2 separate regions of the Homo sapiens genome follow, and region 2 is linked to region 1. Evidence: fine-mapped expression QTL. Tissue or cell type: whole blood. Region 1 holds a variant in brackets; the other region holds the start of a gene. All regions are shown on one strand. Distances are between the middles of the regions.

Region 1 (8,195 bases):
TGCTTTTAATCCCAGCACTTTGGGAAGCCAAGGCAGGAGGATTGCTTGAGGCCAGGAGTTCAAGACCAGCCTGGACTTGAAACCCCGTCTCTACAAAAAAAGAAAACAAGAAATATGAAAATTCCCCTTCCTTCCAACTGAAGTATGGAGCCTCAGAAGACTGAGCACCCATTTCTTGACAAAATCCTCCTGGCCCAGCTATATCCTAGAAGTAAATTACAACAAGTAGAGAGAAAAAATTGGGCTCCCAAACTTCCAGGAAGCTTTGCATGGGGCACAATCCTAGCTGTTATAGAGGTTGAAAGTTAAGTTACATATTTTTCTACCATTCTCTGATTGTGTCTGACATACTGAATATTCATTTATTTTGCCTTTAATTTATCCATAATCGACATGTCTACCATGCATGAGGGCTTAAAGCTCCACTGAAATAAATTACATCCCATGGTATTTAGAAACAGGCAGCCTAACATCTAATCTAATTGACCTAATTAACCCTTTTCTTAAATGCCCATGCTTTACTATATCAGCCAGAGCATACAGTGAACGCTTTTGGCTTTATTGTGGCTGAACAATATTAGAAACTTTAGTCAAATCCAGAACCCAATCTTTAGTTTCAATTTCCTTTCGTACTCCAGCTCAAGCCTGAAATCTTCCTTCTTGTAAACAAAAACCACAAAAGATATTCTATCCCCCATTCCCCAAATGTAGGGGGAAAGTCACAAATGATGTCTGGCTTCAATCCCCTAATGAACTAGCTGAAGGGCCTTGAAAGCAAAAAGACGACGCTTTTATTGAAAGTTCAGGCCTTTTTCTTCAAATGTCCATTAGAATAAAAGGGACTGGTAACTTAGGGATGATCTTATGTGATCATTGTCCACAGTCTTCAATTATAAGCAATGATTCTGTGTGCTCCTTGATGACCAAAGCTGGTGGAGAGTACGGTAATTAACCCAGATGATTCAGAAGCAGCAGAGGATCCAATGCATCACTTCTGGTCATCTTGATACTGCTAGACCTTAGACATTTAGCTTTTATCTCCAATTACATTTTGGCTTAAACAGTTATTCAAATTACCTTCCATCTGTGGGATACAAGCTGGTTGGGTGTAGTGGGTCTACACAATTAGAGCGGGCAACAGATTTAAAGCAGGCAATGTGTGGATGTGCCCTCCCCTGCCGGGCTGCTGAGGAATACACCCCGGGGAGAGGGGCGGCGCATCCACACATTGACAAATGAAAGTTACCCACGTTACCATGTATCATTCTCTTGAAATTACATTTGAGATAAAACAGTAAGATAGTAGCCCATTTCTGACATGGGAATGATAATAACGAATGCCTGTTTCATTGTCTGTTCCGACATGTGCTCCACACTCATCTTCAGTGTCCCTCATTTTAAAGATGAGAAATCCAAGGTCAGGGAGGTTAAGTGATGCCCCCAAGGTCACAAGATCAATCGCTGGCATCTCCACTCTATTGATGCAACAAAAATGGAGGCTGGGCAACATCAAGTGACTTGTCCAGGGACAAGAGCAAAGTGGTGGGGCAAAGACTTCAACCCAGGTAAATTGGACCCAAGTCTAGTCTTATTCCCTCTACACAACAACTGCCTCCCACATGAAGGCTAAAAAGAAAGAGCAGATATTCACTGAGCAACCACATGGTACTAGGAGCCCAGGAATGGAGGAGGGGAAACAGACCCAACCCTCGCCAAGCTTAAAGAGCAAGCAGAGCTTCTGCTCTTCTTCAAGCATCTCTCTCTCATTGCTTAAGGGTAACAAGGAAACAGGGGCATGTAACCAAGCCCTTTGATAAGTACCTGGGCACCTTCTCATGGCTTCTTCTGGTCAAAGACAGCATCAAGTTGCTTTTTGTTGCTACTTTGAGTAGGACCAGGCCCAAAATAGGCCCTCAACAAACATTTTGCATTACGTGAGTTAATTAATCCAGCTTTGAAGCTGAGACAACTGCATGTCACAAGAGCCTAACATTTTCCTAGCTTTTACCTGAGAACATGAGGGGTTTGGCTCTCACATGGCAGTCTATCTCCAATTAACACTGTTGGCTTTTCACAGCCTCCTCAAGAATTCCTATCTCTCTATCTCCAATTAACACTGTTGGCTTTTGCCTCCTCAAGAATTCCTGTCTCAGAGAGCTTGCTGAGCGCTTTCCATGGCTTACATGTGAATCACTTTTCACACTGCAAGGACAGTGACTAAATAGTATCAGACAGGACTTAGGGATTCTGGGACAGAATAAACCACGCCAGAAAGCCGATGACTCAATTCTCCACTTTTCAACTCGTGCTGTCATCCCAGAGAGACAGCCAACGGACCCAGCGCTCTCATCACAATAGAGGCAGGGGGTTCTGAAAATGCAACCAGAAAGATAAAGATCTTAGGAAAGACACTCAAACAGAAAGATCTGCTCAGAGCCAAAGATTGATTCTACCCAAATGCAGGAAAAGAAAAATGGAGAAGTCACCAAATCTATAAATGATTTTCGGAAGAATATTCAATTCAGGAAAACTTATCGTTAGGTGTATTATATTACAAGGCATCTAGTTCAACGGAACTCGGGGTTCAACGACTGGGAAGATCCGAGCAGTGGCAAGTCAATGGGTCTGGAGACCAGGAAGTCAGTGATGGGCTGAGATCCTAACCAGCGATGTGACCTCAGGTCAGAACCACCCCCTGTTGCTGGGTCTTGATATCCTCATCTATAAATAAGGGGGGATTTAGTCTATATAAGATTCCTTCCGGCTGCAAAATTCACTACTTCTGCACCTCCCAGTCCACTCCCTTCTACCGCTGTGAAGTTCACCAAAATTCCACTGGCACCGTGCTCCAGCCCTGAACAGGCTGGCTTTTGTGGACTTCCCTCAGTGCATGGTAACCACAGAAATAAACCCAAATACACCAAAAAATGTAAAGGGGTCGTGAGTGCTGTTGTACTTATGAAGTCAGCAGTGTGAAATGTATAACAAGATTGTCTACAGATCTTTTGTTGACACGTGGTAAGAAAAATCTCCTCTTCAGTATAAAAAGGCCCATTTGTTTGGTTCTCAACCAGATCGGTCTTGAGTCAGCGGCATTTGAAACTGGAGCCCCAGTCATAACTGTGGGCTGCCCTTACCCGACACACACATAGGAGGAAAATTTGGATTTTTCACAGATATCCTCTATTCTGCCATGGGAGCCTAGGAAAGCAGGGGAAGTTGCCCTTGGCATTGACCAGACAATGAACTCATCATCCTGCTTCACCCAGAAATAGAAATGAAGTGTTAAACGTAGCTCACTAGTGTCTGCCTCAGCATTACAGACTGAAGTTAAGTTGCCTAAGAAAGTACAGAGTGGGAATGCTTACTTAATCCATGATAATGTAGCCTACCACCCCGATAATCCCACCACCCCACTGTCATCTGAAAGCACTTATTAAGCACCTAGTGTGTACACAGCCCTTCTTTCCTGGAGTGTTCCAAAAAGAGCTCTCAAGTTTGGGCTGCATGAACACAACGTGAATGTACTTCATGCCACTGAACTGTACACTAAAAATGGTTAAAATGGTAAATTTTATGTTATGTGTATTTTACCATTTTCTTAAATACCAAAAAAAAAAAAAAAAAAAAAAAAAAAATGAAGGGCTGCAGCCCTCAGATACACGAATCATACCGGTGCAAAACAGAAACACTCTGTCAGGCAGATATTTCCAGCA[C/T]GTCCCCAAAGTGTCTGGGGCTGCTGATAATAACCTTTGCCCTGGCCCTGAGTGACCATGGTCTTTTGTTGAAGCACCCCACCTGGAGCCTTAGACTGAACCCACAGTCATTTCCACCCCTCTGGAGTCTTAGTACCGAGGTCCAGGGATTCTCCAATATGAATGTTCCTGGCACCCTCACCCCTGCAATGCCACCACCCTGAATGTCTTCCTCAGAGCACTGTCCCCACCCGACATGGCCTCATCCCTGTCCCCAGTTCCTCCTCCATCCCTTAATGGCAACATGAATGTTGGAGGAACGTGAATGTCCCTCAGCGCAGCCTGGAGTGGTGTCAATGCAGATTCCTAGGCCCCCAAAATCCAGATCCGGATTCAATAGGCCTATCTCGAGGCCCAGAAATCTGCCCTTTTAAACACATTCCAGGTGATTTTTAAGGATTTGGGAATGATTTAAAGGCCCTGGCTAAATGGAAGTGGGTGGTTGACCAAATGCAGCCTTCTCCTGGGCTTTGGAAATGACCAGAGACTGCAGCCATGGGAGGTGCTCCCAGCTCTTGCTCTCCAGTTCAGAGCTCTTCTCTGAAGAACTTCTCTGAAGAGTCCGTTGCTCTTTTCCAAGTTCTGTGAGGCCCCTGACCAAGTCCTTGAACAAGTAACAGGCTCATATATATGGTTCTGCCACCTTTCCCTTTCTAGTGGACGGTCACCCGGAACCAGAACTCCCAGATTCCAGGCCCAGCCCTCCACCACACATTTTGCATCACTGCACCTCAGTCTTCCCCTCTGCAAAATGGGCCTGCTAATACCTGCCCTGGCTTCCGCTAGGCCCACTGTGTCAGGGATTCCAGCCCCTGTTCTTCCAAGCGTGTGACCTTGGGCTCCTTAGGTTTCACCTCTCTGGGTCTCAGCTTCCACATCTTGAAAGCAGGAATAAACACAGTACTTAGTTCATAGAGTTCCTGGGAGGACACAGTAGGCTAAGGCAAGAAAAGCTCTCCTGCCACTGAGAAGCACAGTGAATACTTAACGTGAACCACCATCACGCCTGTGAGTAAGTTGACATGGATATACTGTACTTGGGAGGGAACAGGCATAAGAGAGAACAGTTCTCACACTTCTATTTTAGAGACCAAAGCTCATGCACACATGCCACCCACCCACCCGAGGGCCATGGTTTGTAATCACAGGGTGGGTGGCATTCGTGCATGAGCTTTGGTTTCTAACAATAGAAGACAAGAATGAATTTTGAAGAAGCTAACCCTTTTATTTACAATGTTGAGTTCCTCTACTCCCCAGGCAGAGACCAAGGAATACCCCGATAAGCAATTTCTGAGCACTGCCGAAGTAGGAAAGGGCAGGACGGGCCCTTCTGACGAAGCAGTGGCCTCCAAACCTGTTGCCTGCAGAACAGCCTCCTTCAGAAGAGGACCACTCTGTGGCTCGGCATCCTTTACCCTGACAGCTGGCTCATGCAGGCCAGGCTGCAACCTGCACTCCACCCAACCCCACAGAACAGCACCTGCTGGCCACTCAGCAGCTCACTCAGAACACACCCAGGAAACTTCCTTCAAACGGACAGATGTTCCTGCTCCCAGGCCTTTCTTTGCCTATCAGTTGTCTAAGTTAAGACCCCCTTCACCCGGATTATCACAGAGGACTCGCAGAGGCCTTCCTGGCACCCTCATCCCTGCAATGCCACTACCTTTCATGTCTTCCTCAGAGCACTGTCCCCACCTGACATGGCCTCATCCCTGTCCCCAGTTCCTCCTGCATCCCTTAATGGCAAGCTCCTGGGGCCTTTTCTGTTCATAGCAAGAACACTGTCTGGCACACAGCAGACACTCAGAAAATACTTGTTTACTGGATTGTGTATCCTGTTTAGGGCAAACACAAAGCCCCGTCACCCTGGGATCATCCCAGTTTATGCCTGTGGGCCTGTGGTCCTACACTCTTTTTTTTTTTTTGAGACAGGATCTCACTCTGTAACTCAGGCTGGGGTGCAGTGGCACAGTCTCGGCTCACTGCAACCTCTGCCTCCTGGGTTCAAGTAATTCTTGTGCCTCAGCCTCCTGAGTAGCTGGAATTGCAGGTGCATGCCACCACGCCGGCTCATTTCTTTGTATTTTCAGTAAAGATGGGGTTTCATCATGTTGGCCAGGCTGGTCTTGAACTAGTGAACTCAAATGATTCACCTGCCTTGGCCTCCCAAAGACCTGGGATTACAGGCATGAGTCACCACGCCCGGCCTCTACAGTCATTTTTAATAGTTCCTTTTTCTTTCTTTTTTTCTTTTTTTTTAATTATACTTTAAGTTTTAGGGTACATGTGCACAATGTACAGGTTTGTTACATAGGCATACATGTGCCATGTTGGTGTGCTGCACCCATTAACTCGTCATTTACATTAGGTATATCTCCTAATGCTATCCCTCCCCCAACCCCCACCCCACAACAGACCCCAGTGTGTGATGTTCCCCTTCCTGTGTTCAAGTGTTCTCATTGTTCAATTCCCACCTATGAGTGAGAACATGCGGTGTTTGGTTTTTTGTCCTTGCGATAGTTTGCTGAGAATGATGGTTTCCAGCTTCATCCATGTCCCTACAAAGGACATGAACTCATCATTTTTTATGGCTGCATAGTATTCCATGGTGTATATGTGCCACATTTTCTTAATCCAGTCTATCATTGTTGGACATTTGGGTTGGCTCCAAGTCTTTCCTATTGCGAATAGTGCCACAATTAACATGTGTGCATGTGTCTTTATAGCAGCATGATTTATAATCCTTTGGGTATATACCCAGTAATGGGATGGCTGGGTCAAATGGTATTTCTAGTTCTAGATCCCTGAGGAATCGCCACACTGACTTCCACAATGGTTGAACTAGTTTACACTCCCACCAACAGTGTAAAAGTGTTCCTATTTCTCCACATCCTCTCCAGCACCTGTTGTTTCCGGACTTTTTAATGATTGCCATTCTAACTGGTGTGAGATGGTATCTCACTGTGGTTTTGATTTGCATTTCTCTGATGGCCAGTGATGATGAGCATTTTTTCATGTGTCTTTTGGCTGCATAAATGTCTTCTTTTGAGAAGTGTCTGTTCATATCCTTCGCCCACTTGTTGACGGGGTTGTTTGTTTTTTTCTTGTAAATTCGTTTGAGTTCATTGTAGATTCTGGATATTAGCCCTCTGTCAGATGAGTAGATTGCAAAAATTTTCTCCCATTCTGTAGGTTGCCTGTTCACTCTGATAGTAGTTTCTTTTGCTGTGCAGAAGGTCTTTAGTTTCATTAGATTCCATTTGTCAATTTTGGCTTCTGTTCCCATTGCTTTTGGTGTTTTAGACATGAAGTCTTTGCCTGTGCCTATGTCCTAAATGGTATTGCCTAGGTTTTCTTCTAGGGTTTTTATGGTTTTAGGTCTAACATTTAAGTCTTTAATCCATCTTGAATTAATTTTTGTATAAGGTGTAAGGAAGGGATCCAGTTTTAGCTTTCTACATGTGGCTAGCCAGTTTTCCCAGCACCATTTATTAAATAGGGAATCATTTCCTCATTTCTTGCTTTTGTCAGGTTTGTCAAAGATCAGATAGTTGTAGATGTATGGCATTATTTCTGAGGGCTCTGTTCTGTTCCATTGGTCTATATCTCTGTTTTGGTACCAGCACCATGCTGTTTTGGTTACTGTAGCCTTGTAGTATAGTTTGAAGTCAGGTAGCGTGATGCCTCCAGCTTTGTTCTTTTGGCTTAGGATTGACTTGGCAATGCGGGCTCTTTTTTGGTTCCATATGAACTTTAAAGTAGTTTTTTCCAATTCTGTGAAGAAAGTCATTGGTAGCTTGATGGGGATGGCACTGAATCTATAACTTACCTTGGGCAGTATGGCCATTTTCACGATATTGATTCTTCCTATCCATGAGCATGGAATGTTCTTCCATTTGTTTGTATCCTCTTTTATTTCATTGAGCAGCGGTTTGTAGTTCTCCTTGAAGAGGTCCTTCACATCCTTGTAAGTTGGATTCCTAGGTATTTTATTCTCTTTGAAGCAATTGTGAATGGGAGTTCACTCATGATTTGGCTCTCTGTCTGTTATTGGTGTATAAGAATGCTTGTGATTTTTGCACATTGATTTTGTATCCTGAGACTTTGCTGAAGTTGCCTATCAGCTTAAGGAGATTTTGGGCTGAGACGATGGGGTTTTCTAGATATACAATCATGTCATCTGCAAACAGGGACAATTTGACTTCCTCTTTTCCTAATTGAATACCCTTTATTTCCTTCTCCTGCCTGATTGCCCTGGCCAGAACTTCCAACACTATGTTGAATAGCAATAAAGATCTAAAACTGACACCCTAACATCACAATTAAAAAGTAGAGAAGCAAGAGCAAACACATTCAAAAGCTAGCAGAAGGCAAGAAATACCTAAGATCAGAGCAGAACTGAAGGAGACAGAGACACAAAAAAACCTTCAAAAGATCAAT
Region 2 (8,175 bases), 120 kb after region 1:
TGAAAGTGCAAGGGGGTAAAATGAGACATCTTTAAATAAAGGATATAATCTTTCAATACATTCAACCGAGGCAAAGAAATCCCAGGTGACAGTGAAAATAAACATTTTGCAAAAATAAAAATAATAGAGAGGAAGCAGACAGGAGAGAAAAGGCTTTCTCCTCTGAAGGCTTCTTTCTATGAACAGTAGATTTCAAACAAAAACCACAATCCTATGGAGTAACACAAAAGGAAGGTTCTGAAGAGCTGCCTTTACACACTCTGTGCCAATGCAGCCTGGGGGGCCTCTCAGCTTTGCACTGCATGACACAGCTCCATCAAAACCCAGCCATCTGGGGCAGGTATGCAAGACATTTTAATGCAAGCTGATGAACTTGCATAGGAAGCATTCATTGGTGAACTCAAACCTGTGTAGAAATCACAGGTATATGGTTCCATTCTCCCTAGCTTTAGGAATAGTTCACGGCCATAGAAGGTGTCTGTTCTATGGATGGATTTCCTTAGAATCCATCTAAGTGGCTAAACAAGACCAACCTTCTCCAGAATCCAGGACACAGAGCAGTGCCTCAGCTGCCTACACCTCACGGGCTGCAAATTTAGGTCACGGTGAAAGCTCCTGTCTGGCGCCTGATTAGTTTAAACTGGGTCCGTGTCACAGTTCAGGAAGGCAGGAAGTTTCCCCACCAGACAGAGCCAGAGTTATTGACCAGGCATTCTTGGCAAGGCTAGAAGTGACCTTCCTGAAAACCAGAGAAGTGGGTCTACTTCTGGAGTTTAACCACTTCATGCATTCATCCAGCAAACATTCTATTGAGAACCCACTGTTGTCAGACACCGTGCAAAAAACATCGGGATTAAAATGGAGTCTAAAACCTGGTCCTTGCCCTATAAAATATTCTTAAGGAAGACTATTAACTCAGAGTATCAAAAACTTCTAAATGTAACTATCCTACTGACAAGGCCCACTTCTGCTAAACCCTTGTGCAACTGATGACCAATTACTCAAATTTGCAAATTAATCAATTCTATGAATTAGAAAAGATAATGGGCCCCAGATTAGAATCAGAGAGAGGGACAGCCAGCCTTGCCAGCTGTCTCCTTTTTGTCTCTTTTTTTTTTTTTTTTTTGAGACACAGTTTCACTCTGTCGCCCAGGCTGGAGTGCAGTGGTGCCATCTTAGCTCACAGCAACCTCTGCCTCCTGGGTTCATGCTATTCTCATGCCTCAGCCTCCGGAGTTCCTGGGATTACAGGCGTGTGCCACCACACCCAGCTAATTTTTGTATTTTTAGTAGAGATGTGGTTTCGCCATGTTGGCCAGGCTGGTCTCGAACTCCTGAGCTCAAGTGATGCACCCGCCTCAGCCTCCCAAGGTGCTGGGATTCCAGGTATGAGCCACCGCGCCCTGCCTTCCTTTTTTTCTTTCTCTCCCTCCTCTCATACCCTCCAGCCACCAACGAAGCCTGGAACCCATTGCTTTTGCAATACTATTTTTCTATTTCACATGTAGGTATCTGGAACCCCTGCCAGAGGCCTCCAAATTTTTAGCTACACAATCCGTGCCATGCTGTGGTCCCTTCTGCCTCTCCCAGGGTGATCTGGAGAGACAGAAACTGCAGAGCCAGGCTGAAGGATCAGCTCTCCTTACCCCCAAGATACTTCAGAGAAGCAAGGATCTTTAACTTTTAAAGAAATTCAAACCAGTGAAAGAGATTCCACATCAGTGGTCATTAACAGTGTAGCTTAATAAAATGAACCCCTCAAAAAGAAAATGTTTAATGTAGATTTGAAAGTATATTTTTATGCCCCGTGTAATGATAAACTGTTGACACAGAGCTTTTGTGGACTGTAAGTAATCTGAAATAAGGAAGGCCTTTCAACTGAACTATCTGTAATTCTACATTCAACACAATGTTTTGAAAGTAGTATTTGCTATGGACTGGAGGGAAATATCAGAAAAGTATATTTATAGAGATCTAAATAATAAACAATGGGAGAAAATAGGACTAGAGGGGGACATAAAGGATGGGGCAGGATCATCGACAGAGGATCTTTTTCAGCACAAGCTTAGAAAAGGTTCTCTGCCTCTTCCAAAAGGCTAGGCTGAAAAGATATGATGTCACTTTCAAGTCAACTTAAGACTAACAAGGGCTGGAAATTTTCACAAAGTGACAATTACAAGTTGGAAGTTTCTTTCTAGTATCTTTGGCTAGAAAGTTATTTCCCAATTCTCACAAAGAATTCCATGACAATTGTATTTCCCTGGGCAATTAACAGGTACACAGAAGCTCAAGCGCATTCCTGCTGAAGGCTGACACTCATCCGTGTTCTGGGCATTCGTACAGAGCATTACTGGCATTCACGGTCCCAGCGAAACCTGAACACAGCTCTAGAGTCTAGACCAAATCACCGGCCCCTTGTTTAAACTGTTTGAACCCGAGTGTATCTGTACACCACCAGTCCCCTGGCGCTCTGGGGTGAGTCTGGCCCGGTCTCCGGTGGGCCCTGGAGCTTGGCACTCTGAGATACCCCTGGCTGTCTGGCCCTGCCCACTGCAACCAAGGCCTGCCTGCCGGAATGCAAGCCAGGTCCATTTTTAAATTCCTTTATAAGTTTCACAACCGCAGGTTTGGGTGAGGAGACAAACACCGCTGTAGTTTGCTGACATTAAACTAAAAATACCCAGCTGCAAACAAAAGCCATCTTTAACAGGGCTGGCTCGGACGTCCTGAGGTTACATGTGGTAGAGTCGGACCATATCCTTGGCAGTGTGGCTGCCTTAACAACTGCTCCAGACCGAGTGGGGCAAAGGGGCCGTCTGTCCCTGCGCTGTCAAGGAATCTGCAGCCTGCAGCCCTGCCTGTTTGATGGAAAGAACAGCTTTATTCCTCTGCCATCGACCCAAACGCAGGCTTGATGAATTCGGGACTGCGTCTGTTTAAAGTGTTAGATACACAGTGAAAGGAGAAGGCGGGAGGCAAAAATGAAAAACACCAACCCCACTTCCCTGGAAGGAAATGCGTTTCCACCTCCCTCCTCCTTGCAATTAGAAAAGCAAATTATTGCTGTGACTACGCTGAGAAAGGCAACTCGGAGGCGTAGAAAATGGATTTCTGAGCCAACGTGGCCCGGCAGGGGGCTGCTAAGGGAGGGTAAAAGGGAGCAGGGGAGCCACGGCTTGGCGGGGAGACCCGCGTTACCCGGAAGGCTTCTCGGAACGTTCTACCTGTTGGGCTTCGCAGCCGAGCTGCTCACCCCCGGCCGCCGCGCTCGAGGGCGCCCCTCCCTCTCCAGAACCCAAACTTTCCCTCGCACCCCTAGGAAGCGACGAGCCTCGTCCCTCCCCCAGTCCAGATTTCGGACGTGGAACTTTGCCTGAGCCACAAGGGACCGGAGGAATGGGGTTCATTCCCACGCCGCCCGGGGGATTCCCGTTGCTCGGATCCCAGAAGTGGGGGATGCAAACGGACGGTCAGCCCAGGACCTGGCCAAAGTTTCCTCCAAAACTGCAGTGGTCAAGGCGTGACCCAGGAGCTCGGAGTTTCCAGCTCAGGGCTGGGGGCTGGAGCAGGCCCCGGGGCACCAGCCGCAAGGTCACTGCGGAGCCGGACCCCGGGGGCAAACGGCCGGCGCGTGGTGGAGGGGCAACGCTGGGCACCCGACCACTCTCCACACCTGCTCAGCTCTGCGCGGAGCCCGGGACACGTGGGAGCCCAGTCCCGGGCTCCCAGCCTGCTGCAGGGACTCGCAACCTCGCCGGGGCGTACACCCTTCGCCCCCGGCCCGGCAACCAGGAAGAGGCGGCTCGCCCGGGCGCAGAGCAGCCGGCTCCGGGTAACTCTTTCATCCTCCGACCTCGGCAGCAGCAGGGAGGGAGTTTCGTTCTCCTCAAACCAGCCCCTCACCCCCGGTTGCTTCCCACACCTCTCCGTTTCCCTGCTACCTCGCAGACAGACAGACAAGGGACACAAAGAAAAAAAGAAGAAGAAAAAAAAAAAAAAAAAAACTACCGCCCCTCCTGGTCCCATCCTCCAGCCCGGAGCCGGTAGGAAGAAGAGGGCGAAGCACACCTTCCCTTCTCCTCCCCATCCCGACGCGGTGACCCGGGTAGATCTGGGCAGCCAGGAGCTCTGGGCAGCCAGGAGCCCCGAAGAGGCCGAAGGCGGAGAGGTAGGGTTGGAAGAGGCAGAAATCAGGCGGAGCGAGCTAGAGCGCGAGAGAGAAGAAAATATCCAACAAAACCACGCTAACGCGCCCCCTACCTGGGTGCAACATACTTTGGAAATAGAAGATGACCAGGATAAAGGATCCCAAGCAAGTGGCCAGCACCATCCGGCAGATTCTGTTCATCCTCATCACTTCCAGCAGCGCTGGCTTCATGGCTTTGTCCTGGCTGCGGGGACCGGGGTGTCCGGGAAGCGCGCCCGGGGCGCAGGAGCAGGGACCCCGCCGCGCGGACCGGAGCCCGGGAGGCGCGGGGCAGAGCTGAGCAAGGCTCAGAGGGAGGATCGGAGTCGCTTCGCGGCCGCTCTCGGAGCCCCCAGCCCGGGCAGGGGTGTGGAAGGTGCCGGAGTTGGTCTGGAAGTGCTGAGATGCGTGGACCCGCTGGCTGCGCGCTCCTGCTCCTCCTCCTCGCCGCTCCGCCGCCTCCTCCGATCCCGCCGGCGGCCGCCGCTGCCTGGTCGCGGGCCGGGCGGCTGGGGTGCGAGCGGTGATGGTGGTGCCGCCGCCGCTGCCGCTGCGCTGGCCGCTGTGGCTGTCCGACGGGCCCTCTCCCTTCTCTCCAAAGGCTACTTCATTGCGCTCCAACGATCTATATATTCCGGGGCTGGGTTTTACCAAATGCAACTCGCGGCCCCCGGCGAGGGGAGGGCGCCTGCGGAGAGCCGGGAGGAGGGAGGGACCCTAGCGCCGGGGCGGAGCGTCGCGCTCCCCCCGCCCCTACCCGGGATATGGTCGCGTCCAGCTGTTGCCCGGGGAGTGCGGTGTGCGCGCCGCGCTCCCGCAGGGTCCCAAAAGCCCTCAGTCCCCGGCCGGGCTCGGCCGCCGTCTGGAGGTTGTGTCAGCGTTTCCATGACAAAACCCGGAGGAAAAAAAGACGAAGAAAATCGCCTCGGTGCTGCCACCCACCCCCGCCAGCGTTTGGAGAGGGAAGTGGCAAGCAGCGGGCTGGGTCTCGGAGGGAAGAATTAAGGGTTAGGGGGTTTCTGGTGGCTGGCAATTATTTAAAATCCCTGGGCGACGTAGCGGGGAAGTTGCCCCAAACCCCCAGGGAGCGAGTGCCCATTTTCCGACGCTCAGAACTGGGCGGTTTCGTTTTTCTTTCAAAGGACAGCCCAGCTTGGGAGTCGGGGTTAAAGAGGGCTGACTTAAAGTCAGGGTTAAGGAAACTGCACGACCCTCGGGTCAGGCGACAGCTGAGCTTTCCCGGGGACTTATACAGACAGAATCTCTGACACCCACCATCACCACCATTCCTCAAGGCAAAAGGGATCTGTGGGTTGCAAAACTCTGCTACCCCAAAGGGTAGAGCATCCTCCAAATTATTCAAAATTAACAGCAGTCTTAGCTGGGAGGGGGTGAGAAAATGCCCCTAGGAAGCCACCTCAACCAAGTCCAGAAAACTGCTGGAAAAGCCAAGCCAGCCATAGCACTGGCAGGTACATGGAAAGATGGTGCTGCTTTCTTGTATTGTGTAGAATGACTTCCAGTTTCCAATTCCATGCATTTAGGCTGTTTCACAATCAATAAAGTGGACACAGCCAATAGTGTAGGGATCACTCGTATGTCAGGGAAAAAAAAAATGTTAGTTAGACTAACCTTTGTGCCTTATCAAGTCATTACTAATTCAATTAAAAATGAAATAAGATACTGTGTCTTTCAATGCCTCTCACAAAATAGGCATTTGATAAATTCTTATTGAATCTGAATGTAATGGGCCTTATCCTCCCCTCGATAGACAGAGACACAACTTGCAGTTAGACACATGCAACAAAAACCACCTGGGCAACCTCAGTTCCCTTCCCCCAGAGTTCTCCTCCAGCAGTTGCATGGTGGGGAAAGTAACAAACTCAGCAGCCTTGCCTTTGATTACAGAAGACAATCAAAGCACAATATTTATGTAGCCGGTGTGCGCTGTATTAATTTGGACTTACCTGTGAATAAGTTGCTTGCTCAAGGAAGCCAGGCTGAACAAGCTTCAGACAGAGTCGTTCTCCAGTGATTCTTCTGCTCTGGTGATAGGAGATCAGGAATGGGAGTTGCACTGCACCCTCCCCACCTCCCCACCATCATCACTAAGAAAGGGGATTCCTTGCAGAGGGCATGGCTTAGATGGGCATTTGCACAAAGCCTTTGCCTGGAATATAAGTCTCTCATTTAACACTTGGCTTTACAGAGCCAGGGAGGGGAAGGGATTTACTCCCAGGTCACCCAAGTGACCTCTCACCTCATAGGCCAAAGACTTCAGTTACCTGCCCCAAAGCCTGGACATGCACAAGGCAGTTTGGGAAGTCACAGGGTCAAGGAAGAGATCAGAAGTCCAATTCCCTGTGAGTCACAGAGATCATGGAGTTGGCCCACATGGTGGGGGAGGATGGTGAATCATGCCCAACATCCATTCTTGCATTCCCACAATCAGGAACCTGCCCAAACACAGTGAGGATTAAGGCTGTGACACATAAGCTACCACCTCTCCCAAGAAGTCTTTGCTGTTTTCTCACCTGAAATTGCAACTTTCCTCCTCTGCGCTGTGAGCACTAGGTCCAAACCTCTTTTGGGCCACTGTACCCACTAGGCTGAACTCCTTCCTGGAGATCCAAGTTGTCTTCATCTCTGTCTCTTTCTAATGCCCAGCACAATGACTGGTACATAGTAGGTACAAATAAGTCAGAGGCAGAGAGGTAATGCCTACTTGGACTAGGAAGTTAGATTAGATCACCTCTAAAATCTATGACAAAGGTCAGTGGTAATGGTCTGTGATTCTGTTGTTCTATGCACATTGAGGGGTGATGAAAAAATTCTGTTTTCTCCTTCATCACACTCTAAACTGCCCAACTACAGTTAGAATCATTGCTTTCTTTCCATTCCTAGCCTAAGAAAATTTTGTTACATCTTATGCTATATAATAAATATTAGCCAAGTAAAGGACAGTATTAACTGATAAAACTGAGGAGAAAAATTTTATACTTTGAACATTGAAAGAGGAACGGATCAGTCTTCAGATCCTTTCTCCCTCATCTTTCTAAATTCCCTTTTGCCCTGAAAGATTCTGCAGATTGGCATTGTGCTCATTGTGGGACCTGGCTTGATTGATTGACTCTCCAAATTCAACAACATGCAAGTGAAACTGGGGCCTGCATTTTTGTTTTGTTTTGTTTTGTTTTGTTTTTGAGACGGAGTCTCACTCTGTCGCCCAGGCTGGAGTGCAGTGGCGCGATCTTGGCTCACTGCAAGCTCCGTCTCCCGGGTTCACACCATTCTCCTGCCTCAGCCTCCCGACTAGCTGGGACTACAGGCACGTGCCACCACGCCCGGCTAATTTTTTGTATTTTTTAGTAGAGACGGGGTTTCACCATGTTAGCCAGGATGGTCTCGATCTCCTGACCTCGTGATCCGCCCACCTCGGCCTCCCAAAGTGCTGGGATTACAGGCGTGAGCCACCGCGCCCGGCCAGGGGCCTGCCCATTTTAAAGCCTGGCATGGCCCTGAAAAACTGGTTGAGGAGAAAGTCTTATTTATGTTGACGATCTTGTAGAATTTATAGCAGGGGAAGAAATCGGTGTGAAGTCACAATTCGGGCTTCTGGGTGCTGTTGTCAATGGACTGACAGATGTTTATGTGGCCCTTCCAATCCGCGCAGGCTGAGCGCCTCCTCATTCCGGCAGATTATACCTACAATGCACTGTCTTGTTACGATCTTGCAAACCTGGCAACGATGCCCTTTTCTGCACCTTGTTGGAGAGAAAAGTGGGCCCAGGGTACTAGTAGACAGAGAGCTCTTCAGCATCCTTGAAGGGAGAGAGGGATGTGTCTTCTGCCAACATCAGCCAGGGGCCCCAGACTGGCTCCTCCAAGGACTGGCGCTGCCATTTGCATCTCTCTGGCACCTCTAGCACAAAGGATACTCAGTTAACCAGAGCACAGTAAATATTTGTGAAGTTGAATTATAAACCATT

The links. PIP is the estimated chance that this variant, and not a neighbour inherited with it, causes the effect.
Region 2: CHST11 starts here. The variant in region 1 is fine-mapped to the expression of CHST11 in whole blood (INTERVAL, PIP 0.98).

What each region holds. Positions count from the first base shown.
Region 1 is chr12:104,572,678-104,580,872 of GRCh38, reverse strand. All of the region lies in intron 1 of CHST11 (carbohydrate sulfotransferase 11), which reads right to left. Among named protein-coding and RNA genes, the nearest start is that of MIR3922, 15 kb to the left of the region's middle. RefSeq lists an enhancer at 649-758. The variant C/T (reference allele first, on the strand shown) is at 3,717.
Region 2 is chr12:104,453,615-104,461,789 of GRCh38, reverse strand. CHST11 (carbohydrate sulfotransferase 11) reads right to left here and starts at 4,842. Exons shown (of 3, transcript NM_018413.6): 1 at 4,261-4,842. The coding sequence starts at 4,378. RefSeq lists silencers at 3,304-3,363, 3,524-3,663, 4,254-4,533, 4,574-4,743, 4,824-4,953 and enhancers at 4,054-4,103, 5,024-5,103, 5,124-5,173.